4 separate regions of the Homo sapiens genome follow, and all the other regions are linked to region 1. Evidence: fine-mapped expression QTL. A gene starts in region 1. Each other region holds a variant in brackets. All regions are shown on one strand. Distances are from middle to middle. Region 1 holds the start of MROH6 (maestro heat like repeat family member 6). Region 2 overlaps LINC02878 (long intergenic non-protein coding RNA 2878). Region 3 overlaps MAFA-AS1 (MAFA antisense RNA 1). Region 4 overlaps PYCR3 (pyrroline-5-carboxylate reductase 3).

Evidence for each region.
Region 2: its variant is fine-mapped to the expression of MROH6 in cerebellar hemisphere (GTEx, PIP above 0.99).
Region 3: its variant is fine-mapped to the expression of MROH6 in whole blood (INTERVAL, PIP above 0.99).
Region 4: its variant is fine-mapped to the expression of MROH6 in whole blood (TOPMed, PIP above 0.99).

What each region holds. Positions count from the first base shown.
Region 1 is chr8:143,570,454-143,575,453 of GRCh38, forward strand. It overlaps MROH6 (maestro heat like repeat family member 6), which reads right to left and starts at 2,319. Exons shown (of 14, transcript NM_001100878.2): 1 at 1,968-2,319; 2 at 1,580-1,732; 3 at 1,214-1,368; 4 at 424-541; 5 at 20-204. The coding sequence starts at 2,261. NAPRT (nicotinate phosphoribosyltransferase) reads right to left here. Exons shown (of 13, transcript NM_145201.6): 10 at 4,970-5,000; 11 at 4,738-4,892; 12 at 4,533-4,640; 13 at 4,332-4,447. The coding sequence ends at 4,385. RefSeq lists an enhancer at 828-1,677.
Region 2 is chr8:143,697,689-143,703,216 of GRCh38, forward strand. It overlaps LINC02878 (long intergenic non-protein coding RNA 2878), which reads left to right. Exons shown (of 2, transcript NR_015445.1): 2 at 251-725. Among named protein-coding and RNA genes, the nearest start is that of LINC02878, 3.3 kb to the left of the region's middle. RefSeq lists an enhancer at 2,106-2,606. The variant C/G (reference allele first, on the strand shown) is at 2,458.
Region 3 is chr8:143,416,923-143,422,450 of GRCh38, forward strand. MAFA-AS1 (MAFA antisense RNA 1) reads left to right here. Exons shown (of 3, transcript NR_186795.1): 2 at 819-997; 3 at 2,053-2,228. Among named protein-coding and RNA genes, the nearest start is that of MAFA, 11 kb to the right of the region's middle. The variant G/A (reference allele first, on the strand shown) is at 3,059.
Region 4 is chr8:143,603,504-143,608,503 of GRCh38, forward strand. It overlaps PYCR3 (pyrroline-5-carboxylate reductase 3), which reads right to left. Exons shown (of 6, transcript NM_023078.6): 2 at 4,559-4,623; 3 at 3,450-3,629; 4 at 2,964-3,176; 5 at 2,559-2,651; 6 at 1-2,379. The coding sequence ends at 2,197. Among named protein-coding and RNA genes, the nearest start is that of PYCR3, 3.6 kb to the right of the region's middle. The variant G/T (reference allele first, on the strand shown) is at 2,223.

The DNA.
Region 1 (5,000 bases):
ACCTGGTGTTGCCTCTCACCTGGCATGGCTATGTGGTGGCCCTCGGTGGGACAGAACCCAAATCTTGGGCATGTCGGGGGAGCACGGGCTGCGGGCCAGCTTGTGCAGCTGTGTGACCAGCGCAAGCAGCAGATGTGGGTAGAAGCCCCTCGTGGCTCCCACGCAGCCCGAAACAGCCAGCATCTCCCCAAGAGCACGTGTGGCCTGTGGAGCAAGTGGCCCACTCAGGCCTGGGGCACGCCTGGAGCTGCACTGGGCAGCAGAGGGACAGGCGTGCTGTCAACAGGATGGGGACAGCCTCAGACACGCATGGGACATTCCAGGAGCAGTTACCTAGGTGCAAACTCCCTATGCCCATCCTCCCCGCTCCTCGCCACCCCCCACCCCCGCCCCCACCCCCTGGTAATGGCTGGAGCCACCTACCGCCAGTGCCTGGGGCTCCGGCCCCGAAGCACCCTTCAGCGCCCACAGCAGTTGCACCAGCACCTGCCCATTTACACGCTGGTTACGGCTTAGGCTGCGCCAGAGCTCGGCTGCTACCCTGAGGGTTTGGAGGGGGCTGGTGTGAGACAAGAGATGGGTGGGTGTCCAGGGAATGTAGGGAGTCCCCAGCCAGGGTGGAGGCAGCCAGTAGGACTCCAGCAGGGGAGGGGCAGGAAACCCCTCCCATCTCCCCCCATCCCCAAATCTCAGAGAAACAAATGAAGGGTTAATTGTGCAGACCACAACATAGCCTATCTCAAGCTGAGCTGCAGGGTGGGGACCCACTGGGAGTCCCGTTGGGTCAGCGACAGTGAAACAAACCTGGCATTATTAAAAAGAAAAAAATTGCCACAGAGAATAAAACCAAAGATAACTTCTGGGGCCAATTAACCAAAGAGCCAGGGGTGTCCAGGCACGTTAGCCCCCCAGCCTCATTCACCCCACTCCGGAGCCAACCCCAGGACGGTCTCCAGGGGAGGCCACCCGAAGATAGAAGGTGGCTCCAAGAGAGGAGCCCAGCATCAGAAACTCTGTGGCAGGAGTGTGGGGGGAGTTTGCGGAGCTAAAAATGAGGGGAGCGGGAATGGATACGGGGCATGAGTCATCGCGGGGCTGGAATAAGGAGGCCCTGCCCCTTTTCAGCTCCCTCTTCTGGGGCCAGACTCCACCGCCAAGCGGGAAGAGGGAAGGAAGCCGCGTGGGGACCGCAGGGCCAGGACGGTTGGGTTACCGATCGGCGGGCAGAGAGCGGGGTAGCAGCGCACACACCACGTCCCGCGCATGCTCCAGGGCCAGTGCGCTCAGCACTCGCAGGGCCGCCCTCCAGGGCCTCCCCTCCGCTAGGCTGGGCACCTGCGCCAGCAGCCCACGCACCAGAGCATGCACCTGGTGGGGAAGGGGGCAGACTTCAGCAGTCAGGCCTCCTCCACCGTCCATTCCCCTCTGGCCTGCACCCCACCTCCACCCCCACCCTGATCCCGCCTGGCAGGAGCAGCCTGAAGATGGCAGGGTCAGGCTGCGCTCTCCAGGCCCCTCCCACCACCTTGGTGCCCGAACCGGCAGGATTCTGTAGGGCATGAAGTGGGTGAAGGCTGACCTGGTCCTCCAACCGCTCGCCCCGGGCCTCCAGGGCTGAGGACAGGGTGAGCACTGTCGCCTGGGTCCCTGCAAAGCCAGCCTCCTCCAGGCAGGCAGCCGTGTACAACGCGAGGTCGGCAAGAACTCCCTCCTCCCAGGAACTCTGGGGAACCTAGGGCAGGATGGGTGGGGCGTCTGAAGTGCCCAAACCTCTCCTAGCTCTCCTCCTGGTCCCTCGGCCTCCCACCTGGCTTCCTACAAAATCCCTTGCTCCTCTGTTGCTCACCAGCCTGTTTCACGCTGACCTCCCCCGGGGCCAGCACCGCCCCCCTGCCACCCCGCCTTCCACCTACCATCCACAGGACCCCCAGGCCGGTTCGCACAACATCCCTTCCCTCCCCCGTCACCTGGTGGGGCCCCTCAGGGGCTGGTTCCAGGGCACTGTTGAGGGAGCAGGGCTCGCTGCCAGCTTCAGGGACGGTGGCCCCACGTCCAGGCTCTGCCTCAGAGGGGGCGGTGAGTGCCTGGGTCTGTGGCTCAGCCTCAGGTTTGACCTCCCAGGACTTGGGCTGAGGGCCTGCGGAAGGGGGTCCCTGGGGCTGCCCCTGCCTGGCCCGGATTCCTTCAGTCAGTGCTGTCAGGGTTAGAGCCCCCACGGGAGCCTCCCGGGCCCGGCTCCGGCCCCACACACCCCCAGCCATGGCGGCCCTTGCCTGCAGCACCTGCCGCTGCTCCTCCTGCGAAGTTGTGCCCAGGACTGACCTAGAAGCCGCCCCGGGCGGGACCACGGACGGGCGTGGTGGCGTGCGCTAGCGTGAGCTTGCGGGGGCTGGGGAGCCACACGGACGTGCCTACAATGGGCCTTTGAGGGGCCCTCCTGCCTGGGCTGCTGGAGGGGAGTGGCCACCTGCAGCCTGAGTGCCTGTGGTGTGGCTCTACCCACCAGGGCCCTGAGAACAGGATCCCCAAGAGCTGGCAGATCCACGAAGAAAGGGGGAGAAGGGCCCCCACCCTGACTACCAGCCCCTGTTGACCAGGGAGCTCAGGGCAGTTGTGGACAGCTCTGAGGAGGTCCTCGCAGGGTCCAGGAGTCTGGGCCCCACCCTGAGTCGAGGCCTGATTCAGCCCCCAAGCAGCAGTCAGCTCCCCACTGGGCCTGGGGCTAGGGGCTGGCCCCGCCCCCTGCACGCTGGCTCCGCCCCCTGCACGCTGGCTCTGTCAGACACCTTGCAACAGGCATGACTGGGTGAGCTTGGGGCAGCCCGGAGGTGTGGAGGGGGCAGTGAAGACACCAGAGGAGCGGTGGCCCCTCCAGAGCTTGTGCAGGCCCCTCTGGGTCCTGGGTCCTTGGCCAAATCTCATGTTGAAACGTAATCCCCAGTGCTGGAGGTGGGGCCTGGTGGGAAGTGATTGGATCCTGGGGGCAACTTCCCCCTTTGGTGCTGTTCCCATGATAAGACTTCTCAAGATCTGGTTGTCTGGAAGTGCGTGGCACCGCCCCACCCCTTCCTCCGGCCATGTAAGACCTGCCCGCTTCCGCTTCCACCAAGATGGTAAGTTTCCTGAAGCCTCCCCAGCCATGCTTCCTGTACCTGCAGAACCACAGGCCAATTAAACCTCTCTTCCTTAGAAATTACCCAGTCTCAGGTATTTCTTTACAGCAGTGCAAGAACGGAAGAATACAGCCACTCTGGCTGGGCCCCTCGGAGTGCGCGGGTGCCCTGGGGGTGCCTGGGGTGTGGTGTGTTCTGTCCAATGTGTGTGAGTCTGTATCTCTCTCCTAGCTCGTACTCCCCGGGGCTGGCTGGACTGGGCCTCTGCTCCAAGTCCCCACCCTCCACCCTCAGCCAACCACACAGTGGTGCTGCCCACCCTGAAGCCCGGGGAGCCAGGTGAGCTGGTCTGGTGGAATGCCTGGGCAGACGGAAGTGCCCCAGGCGGTCAGCATTCCCCCCACACCCTTGCCTGTCTGTGCCACCTCAGGCTGCTTCGACAAGAGAGGCCCAGGCCCCCAGCCTCCACTTCCTGCCAAGCCTAGAACCTCTCCCCCAAGCAGTTCCTCTTGAAGCTCACGTTGCCCAAACTGGCGGAACCCTGAGATCAGGAACTTGCTGGTGCAGAGGCAGGGCCAGCCCAGCACAGCCACGTGCAGTGCCACTCTGGCCAGGTGTCTGGGGCTGAGTCATCTCCTGGAGCTTCAACTTCTTCCCCATTCTTCCTCTCCTTCCGTGGGCTGCTGGGTCAGGAGCTGTGTCCCTGACGCCAGATGCCAGGGTGGTGCTGGGTTGGCAGCAGCAGTGGCAGGAGACACCTGAGCACTCCCTTTTGACTTGGGGAGTTTGAGACGTCTTCACTGACCCTGAGCCTGGGGGGCAGTGCCTAGGCAGGCGTGGGAGCCCAGGGCCACGGCTGGACCCTCTTACCTGGCACTACCCCCAACCCTGTCCTGTCCCCAGCCTGCCTCTAGCAAGGAAAGGTCTGCAGCAACTCCCTCAACTCCAAGGCAGACACCAAAGCCCTCCCTGCCTGTGGCTTTGTAGTTCTAGTGTGGGATCTGACTCCCCACAGCCTACCCAAAGCCGGGGAACTCCTCACTGCCCTTCGGGCTTCAGCACAGGGCTGTCTCCCACGCCGGCAGGGCCTGTGCTTTCACTGGGATGCAAATCTTCCTGCTACCTCGAGCTCAGATTCCCGACTCCAGCCCAGCCGCAGCCCGGGAGGCGCAGCCCGTGGGCTGGGTGAACAAACGACACAAACAACACAGGACAAGCTGTGGGGAAAAGTGAGTGATTCGTGTTGTTTCCAGTCAGCCCCGCTCCGAGTCTCAGGGGGACTGCCCCGCACACAGACTGTTCACCAGGGCCTGCAGCCTCTCGGACAGCACCACCTGCAGGGAGCAGAGGACAGGAGCGGTGGGCAGGGTGAGGGCGGGGGCGCACAGGGCAGAATGACAGGGTGGGCCTCCCCCCAACCTGGTACTGTGCAGGGCTCCGCAGCCGCCTGTGCTCAGGGCTGAGTCGGCTCAGGGACAGCTGGGCCAAGGCTCTAGACTCTGCCAGGGATGGGAGCGGCTCACACAGCTGCAGGGAGGAGGTAAGGAAAGAGAAGCTTGGGGCTAGCTCCCAGTCAGGGCTCTACCGGGGCTGGGGGTCAGGATGAGGGCGGTGGGGCAGCCACCTGTCCCTGCTGGAGGCAGAGCCGCAGTAGTGGCTCCACCTGGGCTGGCCTCACGGTGCAGGGCTCCTGGGCCCCTGGAGGCCACACCCTCAGCTCCTGCCCAGCCTGTGGCACTGGCTCTTCTGCTAACTGCAGCATGTCCATGAGTGGAGACCCTGTGTGGACGGGGCAAGAATAAGCGGGGGCCCTGGTGCTTTGAAGGTGGACAGCAGGGGGGATGGGAGGGCCTCACCGTCAGAGCCCAGGAGCCGGAAAGCAGCCTT
Region 2 (5,528 bases), 130 kb after region 1:
CCCTGTTGGCCTCCTCACCACCCAGGCGGGGGTGGGGTGACAGAAGGGGCTCACAGCAGGTGTCCCGTAAGGAGCATCTTCCTTCCTGGGGCCAGCAGCCGTCACTCCCTGTGAGCCTGTAGAGCCGAGTTTTCTCTGCATTTATCTTGGGCAGAGAATGCATGAAGCTACTTCGCGGCCAGAATGGGTGCACAGCAGGGTCCGTTGACAGCCATGCCTGTGACCTAGCCTTCCACCCCTCTGTCTCCAGGGGACACTTGCCTGGCCTTTGTGTTAGCGCTCAGCACACATGTGTCCAGTGTAAAGTCCACCAAGATTAGCAGGGCATGGTAGCTGCCGCCTGTAATCCCAGCTTCTCAGGAGTCTGAGGCAGGAGAATTGCTTGAACCTGGGAGGCGGAGGTTGTAGTGAGCCAAGATCGTGCCACTGCACTCCAGCCTGGGCGACAGAGTGAGACTCCATCTCAAAAAAAAAAAAGTCCGTCGAGAGAGCAGGTGGCGGATGCAGCTGAGAGCTCCAGGAATGGGAGGGCCACGTGGTAGCCACTGGCAGCCTTGACTGAAAGATGAAGGAGTCCATGGTGCTAGGAGGAGGAGTTGCATCCCAGCAGGCTCAGCTCCTGGAGCTGCCTCTCTGCACTCTGAAGGGAGGCCCAGTGGCTGCAATATTCTTCTTTGGGAAGTACAATGCCAAGTAAATAAAGATATTTGGGGTCATTCTAGTTACAACGTATCATAAACTCTACTCACTGTTGTTCTGGGTGTTCATGGGGTCCGCCGTGCGTACCAGTCTTACAGGTCCTCAAACCCATTGGGACCCTTCAAACGAAGAGTGTGCGTGTGGAGTTGGCAGAACCTGACCCGGGCCAGGGTGGAGGGACAGCTGCGTCACTGAGTGCATGTCCAGCCCTAATAGCTCGCTTCGTTGTGTTTGTATCTGTGACCTCTTGGGAGCTAAATCACAGGCCCACCAAACGAAACGTTTTGGGGAATGTGAAATGGGTGGGTTTTGAGCTGGTCCCCAGTGTGAGCTTAATGTTGGAGCCATATTGGATTTTAAAACTTCAGAGGCTCCTTTTCCCGGGGCCAACCATCCTATGTAAAATTCGAGGGCCGATGGTGGAAGCCTGGAGTCCGGTTACAGTGGTAACTCCATGAGGGGAGACCAGCTGTCATGCACCTGAGCACCCAGAATCACTCACACTCCCCACTCCTCCCCTCCCCACACGTGCACACTTAGGAAGTGTGGCAGCCTGACTGCAGGAGAGCCATGATACCACACACAATCCAAACAAAGGCAGAGCAGCCCCGCCTTAGGACAGGTGAGCCTGTGGCCTGCACACCCATTGCCACAGCTGGAGGGCTGTGTCCTTTCCACAGAGGGGTCGGCCAGCCTCGTCTTCTGATCACACTACTTCAAAGGTGCTCAGTCCACTCACCCCACCTCCAGCTGCAGTGTCTCCACCGGGGACCACGACCACCATGTCCATGTTCAAGCAATTCTCTGCCTCAGCCTCCCAAGTAGCTGGGATTACAGGCACCCGCCACCACGCCCAGCTGATTTTTGTGTTTTCAGTAGAGACGGGGTTTCACCATCTTGGCCAGGCTGGTCTTGAACTCCTGACCTCGTGATCCACCCGTCTCGGCCTCCCAAAGTGCTGGAATTACAGGGATGAGCCACTGTGCCCAGCCACCTCAGGGCCTTTTTGCAACTCCGGATGTGGGAGATGACAAAACCACCATGCAAAGAGGGGAAAGGGCGGAAACAATTTATTTGAAAAGGAATAAGGAAAGTGAGTGACTAGTTAAAATTTCAGTATTTGGACACTGCTGAACAGATGTCGGGTGGATCCAGCAGCCGGGGAGCTGTGGTGGGCTGTACGGCGGCCGCCGAGCAGTAGGACACGGTCTCCATCGCCCATCACCTTCCTTGGGGTTTACTCAGCAACTCGGCTGGCCGCGGCCCTGGAGCCGCATGCCTGAGCATCTAAGGATTTCCTAAAGGGGCCTGAGGTCTGTCACCTGGACACGTGGCGAGAGACAGGGAGTGACCCTCTCAGATGACTTACAGGTTGGGAGAGGAGAGATGTCTGAAGGGAAATACACCAAGTCTTTTGTGGCAACTCAACGAAACTGATGGCTTCTGCCTTGTTCTTCAGGGCAGGTCCTCCTGGCCAAATCTGTTCAGCGTGCAGATGCAGACCTAGTCCTACTCTCTTCCTGATTCCATCTCTCCCTTTAATCCCATAGATAAAATCCAGCCCTAGGCTGGGCGCGGTGGCTCACGCCTGTAATCCCAGCACTTTGGGAGGCTGAGGCAAGCGGATCACTTGAGGTCAGGAGCTTGAGACCAGCCTAGCAAACATGGTAAAACCCCATCTCTACTAAAAATACAAAAGTTAGCCAGGGGTGGTGGTGGACGCCTGTTGTCCCAGCTACTCGGGAGGCTGAAAATGCA[C/G]TTCTCCAATCCCCCTTCGGCTGCCCTTCCTGGTAGGTGCTGAGTGTTGCTGGCCACAGCCCTCAGGGGCCGCCACCTTTGCTTTGACCTTCGCTGACGCAGATGTCTGTTCCAAGGTTATGCCCCTTCCTGGGGCCACATCCAGGAACTAGTAGATGGAGGGGTGCTAACGCCTGGCCCCGTGGCTCCTCTCTCAAGGACCATCCAGCTGCAGACCCCCACACAAGCCCTGCCACGCCTGCATGGAACTCGCCTCTCTCTGCACAAGCTCCCCACAGCAAACCCCCTGCTGAGTGGCCCGGGGTTGGCCCTGGGTGTCTGGCCCCACAGCACAGCGGATCAGACCTTCCACTTGGGGCCCAGAACACCCAGGCTCACGTCCTCTTCCTTGCTCGAGTACTGCCCTGTCCTGTCCATACACAGCCAAATCCCCTCGCCGTGGATCCCCGGGGTTCTGATTGGTCTGATGTGAAGAGAGATGTTCTCTTGCCAGAAGGGGTGGAATGCAGTTGGGGTTCCCTTGGCCAATACATCAGGCAACTTTTGTCTACAAAAGAGAGCTAAGTGCACGTTATTTTAGTGAAGTTTATTCCGAGTTACAATTCACACAGGCCTTCTGCTCTCCAGGAAATACAGCACAAAGGGTAAAGCCCCCTTACTGCCCCTACTCCTGTGGAATGAGCTTTCCTGATGGTGGAGTGTGTCCACTGTGAAAGCTGCCGCTACCAACATGGAGTCGGGGTAGCCCTGAAGTCCTCAGATACAGAGGCCTGTGACAGGACGCAGCCCAAGACACTCCTGCACGGAGACGGTTCCAGGACCCACAGGGCGCCCTCAGGGTTGCCTACCCCAGACGGACGCTTGCCCAGCAGTGACTGTCTCAGCCCACGCACTAATTCCAGCTCCTGTAACAGACTCCTGTAAAAGACCCTTGGCTTTGAAAACAGCTTATGTGGGCTTCTTTTTTGTTCTTGTTTTTGTTGTTGTTGTTTTTGAGATGGAGTCTCGCTCTGTCTCCCAGGCTGGAGTGCAGTGGTGCAATCTCGGCTCACTGCAACTTCCGCCTCCTGAGTTCAAGCGATTCTCTTGCCCCAGCCTCCCAAGTACCTGGGATTACGGGCGCAAGCCACCACACCCAGCTAATTTTTGTATTTTTAGTAGTGACTGGGTTTCTCCATGTTGGCCAGGCTGGTCTTGAACTCCTGACCTCAGGTGATCCACCCGCCTCGGCCTCCCAAAGTGCTAGGATTACAGGCGTGAGCCACTGCGCCTGGCCCTTTTTGTTTTTAAGATTCCCCTTTTCCCCAACTCCCCTGGATACACCTATAGCCTGCCAAATACCCCGAATTGCAATTCTCTGCAATTCTCAAATCAACTCGCTTATTTGGAGAGCTTGTCTCTTGAGTTTCTTTTTAGGTTGACACAACAAATACTTGTCCAACACCTGTGTAGGCACAAACCTGCGTGTGTGTGCTCCTCATCGTGTGGAGTCGTCCTGTGCGCCCCGCATGTGCTTCTTCATTCCGTCTGTGTGCGCTCTTTCCAGCAACCGCATGCTGTCCCATGAATGTGTCCTGTGGAAGGACACAGCCTGCAATCCCAGCGTTTTGGTGCTGTGAATTCCGCCGCAGTGAATGTCTTTGCTCTTACATCTGTGTGCACACGTGCCTGTATCCCCGCTCTTGCGTCTGTGTGCACCTGGGCCTTGCCAGGTTCCTGCAGCTGCTGTAACAGGACACCCCAGACCAGGTGGCTTCAGACAACAGAAATGAATTCTCTCAGTTCTGGGGGCCTGATGTCCACAATCCAGGCATCAGCAGGGCTGTGCTCCCTCTGAAACCTGTAGGGGAAGGATCCTCCCTTGCTTCTTCCAGTTTTGAGTGTTGCCAGCAGTTCCTGGCAGTTCTTGGCATGTAGAAAATCACTCCAATCTCTGCCTCTGTTGGCACACGCGTTCTCCCTGTGTCTCTGTCTTCATGTGACCAGCTTCTCATAAGGACACCAGTTACATTGGATTAGGGCCTACCCGCATGACCCCAGCTAATGACATCTGCAACAACCTCATCTCCAAATACAGTCATGTTCTGAGGTACTGGGGGTTAGGGCTTGAACGTAAATTTTTCAGGGGACTCTGCAACCCACAACAAAGGTACACAATGGATTCCTAGAGGTCGATCTGCTGAGTCAAAGAGCAGGGCTGTTTTAGATTTAATAGCAGCAGCCAGCCAACAAAATCAGGAGCGTTCCACACTCCCAGGCTCTGCAATGACACAGGTGCCCTCCACAGCCCCTTACTCTGGGTCTTCCTCATCCTGGCACTGGCTTGACTTGCCCCTCCCCGTTTCCTGGGCAGCATGGCTGTCTTCAGACACGCATCGGCATTTGTACTTCTTTGGTGTTCGAGTCGTTTCCTGTGTCTTCTGGTTGGTTGTTGGGTCTTTGGTGTTCAAGTCGTTCGCCTGTGTCTTCTGGTTGGTTGTTGGGTCTTTGGTGTTCAAGTCGTTCGCCTGTGTCTTCTGGTTGGTTGTTGGGTCTTTGGTGTTCAAGTCGTTCGCCTGTGTCTTCTGGTTGGTTGTTGGGTCTTTGGTGTTCGAGTTGTTTGCCTGTGTTTTCTGGTTGGTTGTTGGGGACATGCATCGGCATTTGTACTTCTTTAGTGTTCAAGTCATTGCCTGTGTTTTCTGGTTGGTTGTTGGGTCTTTGGTGTTCGAGTCATTTCTTGTGTTTTCTGGTTGGTTGTTGGGTCTTTGGTGTTCGAGTCGTTTCCTGTGTTTTCTGGTTGGTTGTTGGGTCTTTGGTGTTCGAGTCATTTCTTGTGTTTTCTGGTTGGTTGTTGGGTCTTTGGTGTTCAAGTCGTTTCCTGTGTTTTCTGGTTGGTTGGTGGGTCTTTGGTGTTCAAGTCGTTTCCTGTGTTTTCTGGTTGGTTGGTGGGTCTTTGGTGTTCGAGTCATTTGCCTGTGTTTTCTGGTTAGCTGTTGGGTCTTTGGTGTTCGAGTTGTTTCCTGTGTTTTCTGGTTGGTTGTTGGGTCTTTGGTGTTTGAGTCATTTCCTGTGTTTTCTGGTTGGTTGTT
Region 3 (5,528 bases), 150 kb before region 1:
TATCACTTCAAAAAAACAAAAGTGGATGTGGCTGATGCCAAAGTGACCTGCCCCAGAAGAGCTGCTAACAGAACAGCATCCCAGGAGGCTGCAGAAGGCTGAAGAGCAGAGCCCACACCTGCTATGGGCCACAAGAGGCCCTGGATGCCATGGAGGCCGCAAGGGCCCAGGCGGGACTTGCAGAATGAGAGTCCTAGGCCCAAGTATAGAGTCCCTGGTGGGCACAGAGGAGAGACCAGGTCAGTGGGAGGGGTTGTCAGACCCTGTGGAGTGCCCCACCTGTGTGCCAGGCCCAGAACTGGGCTCAACTCTGATGGTAGCAGGTGGAAAGTAGACTTCACTACTGTGGGAGTGGGGGCATTCCTGGACACAGGGGGAAACCAGCTCACAGAACAGCCTGGGGTCTTCTTGGAGGAGGCCATTTTGGCCCAGATCCTAAAGGAAGACTGGAAGCCTCAGGGGGCAGTGAGAACAGGGACAAGAGAGGGCAGGTCTCAGGACTGACTGAGCAACTCAGACTGACCTGGATCAAACTGTGGAGCCGGCGAAGGGTTTAGAGGGTTGCTGCAGGACAGTGGTGTCTGCAAAGACGCCTCTGGCTGCTGTCTGGAAAATAGACAGGGGAGGCTGGGCAGGGGTCTGGGCAGGGGCTGGACAGGGGTGCTGGGCAGGGGCTGGACAGGGGTGCTGGGCAGGGGCTGGACAGGGGTGCTGGGCAGGGGCTGGACAGGGGTGCTGGGCAGGGTCAGTCCATCTCCATCCTGCTTTCCTTTTCTTTCTTTTCAACAAATATTGATGGAGCACCTCCTCGGTGCCAGGCGCTGCTGCAGCCTCTAGGAAATCAACCGTGGAAACACACGGACCCTGCCCTCCCGGCGCCAGTGTTCTGGTGGTCAGGAGGTGAAGAAAACCAGCAAGAACCAGCACAGGAATCCGACGGTGGCAGCGCCGAGAGAAACAAGCTTGGAGGGGAAGGAGAGCTACAGAGGCTGCATGGGTGAGGCCAGCTTCTTGAAAATGGAGGTGTGAGATTTGAGGAGGGCTCTGGAGAGAAGAGGGAAGAGGGCCCAGGGGAGAGATGAGCAAAGGTTCGGTGGTACAAACTGAGCTCCCTCACTCCACGTTTGGAGTCATTCCACAGCTTCCTAAACCACCCACCCAGGCAACCCCATCCCCCTACCCACCCATCCACCCACCAACTCACCCCCAACCCCCCACCCACCCATCCTCCCACCCACCTGCCAACCCCCTACCCACCCACCCACTCATCCTCCCACCCTCCAACCCCCTACCCACACACTCACCCATCCTCCCACCCACCCTTCAGCCCCCTACCCCCCACCCACCCACTCATCCTCCCACACACCCTCCAACCCCCTACCCAGCCACCCACCCACTCATCCTCCCACCCTCCAACCCCCACCCACCCACCCACTCATCCACTGACTCTCTAACCCCCTACCCACCCATCCACTCACTCATCCACTCTTCCCCATACCCCCCCACCCACCCACTCATCTTCCCACTCACCCCCATACCCCCTACTCACCCACCCACTCACCAACTTACCCGCCCATCCATTCATTCACCCTCCTCCCACTCACCCACTCCCACCCATCCCCCATTCCCCCATGCCTCATCCTCCCATCCATCCATCTACCCACTCACCTACCCAACCACTCACCCATCTACCCACTCACCCACGCACCCTTCCATCCATCCACCCACCCATCATCCACCCACTCATCTGCCCATCTCCCCATTCCCCCACCATCCCATCCATCCATCCACCCATCCACCCATCCATCCACCCAACTGACCATCCACGTATCCACTCACCCACCTGTTCACCCATCTACACACCATTTATTCACCCACCATCAACCATCCATATATCCTTCCATCCAGCCACTATCCTCCCGTTCCTACCCATCCTGCTGTCTTCCTCATCTTTCTTGTCACACGTCCAGCTGTCTGTCCGTTCATCCACCCATCACCTCATATGCTCCTTTTGTTTTTACCTCTTTCACCTTTCTTCATCTTCAAATGCAGATGTGATGGTTGGAGTGGAAGCTGACATTGTGGGCCAGGAGACCCTGGGAGTACAGGCCAAGATGAAAAGAGCCTCAATCCAGAGCGTTCTGTGAAGCAGTCACCACGGCCACCCTGGGCCATCAGCTTCTGGACTTTTACAACATAGAAATTAAATTTCCATTGAATTTGTTGGAGTCATTGTTCCTTCAGCTCTCTGTTACCTGCACTTACATCTCTCTGTGAGTCGCGGAGTCTTGCAGTTAAGGTATTAATATTATTGCGTCTCAAGGTGCCTCAGGTCAGAGGTTCCAAAGGTGAATGAGGGCACAGCTCTCCGTCTGAGACTCACGGTGGAGAAGCCTCCTCACCTTGCTCCTTCTCCCTGTCACCAAGAAAGGAGGTCTGGGGGAAGGAAGGGGTCCGTGTGGCCCTCCCGCCCCCACACTGTCCCTCTTGGATTCTGCTAGCCTGTGGGTGTGGGCAGCAGCTCAGCCTGGCCCTGGAATTTTCCATAAAGGTCTTTCCAGGTAAGAATGATTAGACAACATATTTTGTATTCATTATTATATAGTGCGTTTTAAATGTTATTTACGTGTATGTGGGTGGGTAAGATTTAATGGCTAAAGAGTGCTAGACAGCGGGAGCCAGGAGTGTGTCTGGGCTTGTCACATGAATTCCTGCAGAAATAATTCTCTTTTGGAGAATGCTGAACGTCATACCTTCCTGATCGTAACCTCAACGTGGCCCTAAGCGCCCTGTCCAGGGCCCCAGAGTTTCTGAACTCAGCTTAAGTCAGCTCCCCAAATTCAGCAGAAAGTGGGAGGAGTTGGGGCTGTTCTGTCCCTAGTACACAGGTCTGGGCAGGGCTGGGTTTTACCTTCTGGGAAGGGCTGTGGAAGGGAGGGTGAGGGGACAGACCCAGCGGATGAGGGGTTTGAAAAGGAGGAGTGGGGACTGCAGTGATGGGCAGCGCACTGCGGCTGAGTAGGGGGAGGAAAGCCTTCTGGGAGCTGAGCTGGGCTGA[G/A]CTGGGGACCCCCCATGGATGGCAGCTCTGGGTGCCCCTCCCATGCCTGCTCCTTCCCTGCTCCCCTCCTGCCAGGAGCCAAGCTCTGTTCCCCCAGGCCCCTCTGCAAGCCCCACAGACGTGGCCAAGACATCTCCGGTCTTGGATTGGGGGCACCCCTGTAAATCCCGCCCCGGTGCACCTGGAGAGGCACATCCCACTCCACGCCCTCCCCTCGGAACAGAGCCCCCTCTTCCAAGAAGCCTTCTCAGATTGACGAAGGGCTTGCTGAACGGGTCCCTCTCTTTACTGCTCATGAGGCCCCTGTGTGGATGGCCGATGGGAGGAGCGTCTTCTTACAGATGAGGTGATTGAGCCCTGAGAGACGGCCCCCGCTCTACCTCCAGCTGGGGAAGGGCAGAGGTCAGGCCGACTCCAGTCCAGCCCCTCTGCCACCATGGCGGGGGTGGCCTGGTGACTGGGCCGGGGGGCTGGGGAGGTGCCCACCTGACCTAACCAAGGCCAGTGACGAGGTCCAAGGCCCCGTCTCCACCCACGCCCCACCGCCTGACCCGCCTCCAAGGCGATGGCAGCCCCCACCCTGCTCCAGAGAAGACGCGTGGACAAGGTGAGGAGGAGACCAGAGCCTTCCTCCCAGACTCGCAGAGCCACCCCCGCGCGAGCCCTCCGCACCACCCGCACCTCCTGAGCTCTCAGGTATGGTGGTGCCAGGGCGGTGCACCAAGCACCCTCAGATGTGCTGCGAGGCTGCCCTTCGGAGGCACCCGTGCCGGCCTCCTGCTCTTCCATAGGGCAGCGGGCCCAGGCAGGGCACAAGGCGGACAGAGTGTCCCGTCCCCCATGCGATACGCCCAGGACCCAGAGGGCAGAGACGGTGGGTGAGGAACCATCTCTGCAGGGAACCGCCAGCAGGAACAGAAGGGTGAGGGGCCGGGCCAGCGACCTCCCTGGACTGTGGCAGCTCCCGCCTGTGCCCCCACGATCCTCTCTACACAGAAGCAGGGGCCCCTGCTGCCCCCACAGTGGCCCCAGGATCTGTCCCCAGTTCCTCGCCGCCCTCCCTGCCCCCATTTCACGGCTGCTCCCCTGCAGCCGCTCCAGCCCCGACTTTATACACACAGGCCCAGCCACCTACGGGCAGGCGAGGCCTCCTGGAGGCCCGGCGGGCTCTTCCCCCTCCCTCCCCGCCCTTTTCCTCTCCCGATTTCCTGGCCACCCTCTGGCTTAGTCTGCAATTCATCTTCCCGTCTCTCTTCCCATACCTGAGCCTCGTGCCGCCCGGGATTGCGGCGCCCGCGCCACCACGCTGGGGTAATGGTCCCAGCACCGCTGCCCTGCGTCCTGCCGCGCCCCAGCCCGCGCGTCTCACACACCGCGACTGCGTGTCTACAGGTGCCGCCTCTTGACGCCTCTGCTGCACCGCCAGTGCCCCGCTCGGCAAAGCACAGCCCCTCCCCAGCACTGCAGCAAATGGGCAGGAGACCCCCGCCCGGCCGGGGGAGCAGGGGCAACGGCAGGGCCCCAGTAGAGAGGGTGGAGCTGGAGCCGAGGCCGGGCCAGGCGCCTGCGGGGCCTAACGCTTCTGAGACAGGCGAGCCGTGCTCCGTGCTCCGTGCTCCGGGACGAAGGGGGCTGTGGGGTCGGCAGAGGGCTTCCCGTGAGGAGGAGCACACCAGGAGTGCTGAGGCCGGGGGTGGGAGGCGGGCAGATCCCTCAGGAGGGTGGGCTGGAGGGCCGGGACAGCCATGGGCGGCTTCTGTGCGGAGGGGCAGCCTTGGGGTTGAAGAGAGGAGACCAGAGGCTGCAGGGAGAAGCTGGGGATGGGTGGGGTGGGCCCAGCCAGGGCCCCTGTGTTTGAAACTCCCTTGTCGCAGAGGAGCCGTGGGCTACGCCCCTCCCCCAGGGCATCAGCTCCCCTGGGGCATCTGTACCAAGAGCTGGGCAGAGGCGGCGGCTGGAGAGGGGCCACCCAGGGCATGTGGCTTCCCGGAGGACATGGCTTGTCCCTGAGACCCACCCCTCTGGGGGAGGTGACCAGACACCTGGGTCCCAGCCAGGAGACGGGAGCAAGGGTGCTGCAGGAGAAGGGACTCCGGGACCCTCCTTCCTAGAGAAGCCAGAGTCCCCTAGAGTCCCGCGGGGCCCCGCCAGCAGCCTGGGACTCTTCTGTGCCCAGCACCCTGCCTGCACGCTCACTGCTGCTCCCAGGCTGCTCCGGGGAGGCGATCAAGGCCCATGGGGCTGGCGCCTGGCATGTTCCAGATACCTCCCTGTGTCAGCCTCTGAGGACTGGGTGGGAGGGAGGCAAAGGGGCCATCCCCTGCGAGCTAGACCACGCTGAGTGGGTGCCGGGAGGTGCAGTGGAGTCGGGGAGGCCCCAGGGCGGAGCCCGCCACATGGGAGGGAGGGGCTGGGCCACAGACGCAAGTCAGGGGCCAAGGTGGCTCTGTCTGGGAAGGCGGTGGCCTGA
Region 4 (5,000 bases), 33 kb after region 1:
TCTCCACCTCCCGAGCTGAGCTCACCTAGTGCCCAGGGCTTGTCAGAGGTCCCAGGGGGAGACAGGTGTTGGTGCAAAGTCAATGATTTCTCCTTGCAGATGGGCTTGGTGTGAATGCAGGTGGCCGTCAGAAGGGCTGTCCACCTTCCTTCAGGGGGCCGCCTGCACCAGACCCCAGGCTCCCAGGCCTGCCCAGGCTTGGCATACAGTCCCCTGGGGTGACAGCGTGCAGGGGAAACTGCAATTCCATGCCCTACAAAGCCCCCAGGTGATGTAGAGGCCTGTAGCAGGCATGGGGAGACCTCTGCTGTCCACAGTGCCAGCACCCCCTTCGGCTGACACCTGTGCTTGACCAAGGTTCCAGGCCTCAACTTATGGGGCAGGCATTGGACCTTCTTTTTTTTTTTTTCCAAGACAGAGTCTTGCTGTCACCCAGGCTGGAGTGCAGTGGCATGATCTTGGCTCTCTGCAATCTCCGCCTCCTGGATTCAAGCAATTCTCCTGCCTCAGCCTCCCAAGTAGCTGGGATTACAGGCACGCACCACCACATCCAGCTAATTTTGTATTTTTAGTAGAGATGGGGTTTCTCCATGTTGGTCAGGTTGGTCTCAAACTCCTGACTTTGTGATCTGCCCGCCTCGGCCTCCCAAAGTGCTGGAATTACAGATGTGAGCCACTGGGCCCAGCCCAGAACTTGGTTTTATCCACCTCTGGTGAAACATGAGCTCACTTGGTGCTCTCTGGCCTCTTTATTCCCATCTCCTTAGGCTGACCCTGACAAGTGCCAGGGCCAGGCTTGGACCAAGCAGTCAACTGAGTCAGCCTGCCCTGGGAACCAGGCAGGGGAGGGAGCTTACGGACGGGCTAGGCTCAGGAGAGTAAGAGAGAGCAGATGAAGGGCAGAAGTCCGTGGCCGCAGAGGCAGCTGAGCATGAGGGATGGAGCGTGCTGCTGTCCTGCAGGTGCCGTTAGCCCTGTTTTGCACTGGTGGATTGATCTGCTCAGGCGCACAGGGAGATGGCACAGCAGGACCCGCCGCCCAGCCTCGCTGAGGGCATGCTCCCGCCTCACCTCCAGAGGCTGTTGGGCGGAAGCCGAGAGCTGCAGCAGTTGGGGCCAGCGTGGGACTGGAGGCCCAGGTGAATCTTGTGGGGCAGGGGACGGAGCTGAGGCTGTCCGGCCCGGGCCCTCCCCACCCAAAGGCCCTAGAACCCTAGCCTTCAATCCTGGGGGTTTGCTTCTCCCCTGAGTCCTGGCTTTCCTGACCTGCCGTCCGTTAGGGACAGGTGGAGGGGCCAAGTCTTGCCATCAGAGGCCAGTGTGGTGGTGCCAGAGCTACGGGGTATTCCAGGACCCCTGACCTAGGCACGGGGCAGGAGGGCCCAGAGCCACCTGGCCACTTGTCAGGAGCTTAGGATTGGGAGGAAAGAGGGAGCCTGTATCCAGACTAAAGCCAGGGGTCTGCATGTGTCCTGGCTGGCCAGGGCCACCCTCCCAGACCTCAAGCCACCCCACCTACCACTGCCCACCTGGTGCCACCCCAGCACTGCCGCAGACCTGGCCCAGCAGCTCCTGCTCCTTAGCAGGGGATGAGCACGCCCACCACAGCCACCCTCTTCTCCAGGCTGCAGGGCAGGCTCCAGCTCCCCATGGGGGCCCCATCAGGCCAGGGCCCCTGGCTTTACTGCAGGGGAGAGGGTCTCTTGTGCAGACCCCATATGGCTCGTGCCCCCTAGAGCTGAGATGAGGCAGCCGGCCTGGCTGTAGCTGCACGGAGCCACCTGGAAAGCCAAAGGCAAGCTCCAGCTCCAGACCAGGCATTGGGCCAGCCGTGCCTGTTACCGTAAGTTCTGTTCATGGCCTCAACCAACTGCCCAACCATGCGGGCAAATGACCAAGACGCCATCTCTTGGGCCCCTCAGAACCAATGTTGCAGCAAGGTGGGCTCACTGCAGCAAGGGGCAGAGCCACCACCACGGTGCCTTCTGCTCACTGGGGAGGGAGGAGTGTCCCCACTGGTCGGGGCTCCCCCGCCTGCTGGAACCTCCCAAGTCCTGCCCCCTGCATTTCCCTGTGCAAGGGGAGAAGGAGCAGTAGGAGACCCTCATGCAGGAGGGAGGGAGCCGCAGTCCTCAGGGGAAGGGACACAGGGAGAGGCAGGGGCACAGAGGCAGGAAAGGATGGCCAGAGCCCAGCCTACTTTCTGCTGAGCTCCTTGGCCC[G/T]GCAGGTGGCAGCCTCCACGGCGCTCATGGTGGCTGCTCGCAGCCCGCCCTGCTCCAGGGCGTGGAGTCCATAGATGGTGGTGCCACCCGGGGTGCACACGTCTGAGCGCAGCTGGGCTGGGTGTTGGCCCTCGTGCAGCAGCATCTTGGCCGTCCCCTGAGGAGAGCGTTAGGGCCTGGTGACGGGGGGAGGTGGTGCGGTCCCCACTGTGCGGCCTGCCCTCGTTGCATCCCCCAACCTTGGCCCCAGCTTCTCGAGCCTGCTGTTTCCCTGCGCACTGGAAGAGGTACAGGCCTGGGCCTTCCCGATGTTCCCCAGGGGCCACCCTCACTCACCAGCAGGGTCTGGGCAGCGATGCGGTGGGCCAGGCTGCTGGGCATGCCCATCTTGACGGCTCCTTCAGCCAGGGCCTCGGAGAATGCACACACCTGTAGCCGCGGCATGGTGGTTGGGGGGGATAGGTGTCAAAGCCTGGGGGCTCAGGACCTTCAGGAACAATGCCCAGAGCAGTAGCCGTGGGTGGCCAGAACCAAGGCCTGAGCCCAACGGTCTGCAAAGGGGCTGGCCTCAAAGATCCCCAAGGCAGTGAAGTCCCGGGGACAAGCAGAGCTCCCAGTGGGCCTGGGGAGCAACCACGCAGGCCTCAAGGTTGGACTCTGAGGGCAGAGGCTGTCAGAGGGACTGGGGTGGGCCCCCTCTTTGCCGAGGGTGGGGCCGGGGATGGACGAGGCAATACTCACGAAGGCCACGCCACTGCCACTGAGGCCAGTGTGGATGTCGACGTAGGCTTCAGGCACCTCCTCACACCGCCCACAGGCCTCCAGCAGATGCTGCAGGAGCTTGGTCTCGCTGCTCCCCACGTGGCGGCCCCGCGCCATCACTATGGCCCCTTCCTGGACCACACAGGGCAGGTTGGGCAAGACCCGCAGCACCCGTGTGTTTGGGGGCAGCAGCTGGCCAGAGAGAGGTCAGAATCAGGGAGTCTGTAGGACTGGGCCCTGCTGGGCAGGCCCCAGCAGGGGCCTCAGGAAAGGTCCACGTCAGCTCGCGGTGGGCTCCAGCGTCTGCCTCCCAGGTACAGCACCAGGAGGGAACCCTAAATCCAGCCACTTGATCCAGGTGGGCCACACGGCCACCTCTCAGGCTCTCTGGGGGGCTGCCTGCCGCCCAAGCCTGGCCAGCAGAGCCTATACTGGGACCAAGGCCTTAGCCCAAGGGACACTCACCTCCTCCAGGGTGCTCAGAGACACCCCAGCAGCCACGGACACCAAGATGTGTTCAGTGGTGACCACAGGAGCCACCTCTGCCAGGACAGCTGGCAGCACATGAGGCTTGGTGGCAAAGATGACGAGCAGGCAGCTCTGCAGCACCTCCTGGTTGGAGTGCGTGGTCCGGCAACCCAGAGCCTGCGCCAGGGACACCAGGACCAAGCCTCAGGGGCCATGTAAGCGGCGCACCCTCTCCATCACAGCCCTTCCTGCTGGATGCCACACGTTCCCATGGTCCCAGGGCCTCTCCCATTGCAAGTGTCTAGACCACCCCGACTTCTCCAGTGCCCAAGACTCCCCCAGACTAGCCCTACTCCTCACAGGCCATCCTGATGTCAGCGCCTCCCCAAGCCCTGAGCCCTCCATCCCCAGTGAATGTCTGTGACCACCACCCAGCATGCAAACACACCCATGCACATGCACGCACTCACGAGCATGCATTCATATACACACACGCAGACACATGCACTCACGAGCATACATACACATGTACACATGAATGCACTCATGAGCACAAACACATGCACACACACCCACTCGAGCATGCACTCATGTGTACACGCACGCACTCATACACGCACACACGCACTCATATACACATCTGCACAGGCACACATGCACAAGCACATACGTGCACTCACGACCACACAGGTGCACATGCACTCATGAGCATGCACTCATACACACACGCACACACATGCACTGACATACATGCACTCACCACACGTGCACACGCACACACAAGCGCACGTGCAAACGCACATGAGCACATACATACACACATGCACACGCATAGCCTCACATATACACACGTGCATATACACACACTCACGGACATGCACTCACACATGCATACACACACACACACAAACACTTTGCTTTGGCCCTCCACAACCTTACTTTCCTCCTGGCCTCTAATCTCCCTTTTCCCAGCCCAGACCAGCCAGTCTGCAAACTTCAGCTAAATAAACCACCCATCCCTGGCTCTGATAAGTGTCTTAGTGGGACAGGAGCCAAGAGCTATCCTGGGCTCCTGAGGGTATGAAGAACCTGGGCTCTATGCTCACTTGAAAGTGACATAGGTTCCTGTCTGTTGGTGCACTGGCCAGTATGTGCTGAGCTTCCACTTTTCCTGGAAAGAAAGGAAAAGGAAGAGGGGTTGGTGAAGGGGTGGGATAGGATGGCACGGAGAGGAGAGGGAGCTCACTTGGCCTCTCAGGCTCAGCCACGCCTGGCCCATCCTGGGCCCCCTCCTGGCCCCAGGAACCCAAAGCGGGATGCACCATTCACTGGGCCCAGGCAATCAGATCCACTGATTCTACTTGGCGGTCAACGCCCCTGACTGCTGCTGGGTATGGAGGCCAGGAGCTTACCTCATTGGTGAGGACACAGATCCCTGGGGCCTCTGCCTCCAGGGAAGGGAAGGCTGCCTGGAGCAGAAGAGGCAGTACCTCTGGAGGAACACCAGGCCTTGGGGGAATGTGGTGGGTACAAAGGCAGTTGATTGGC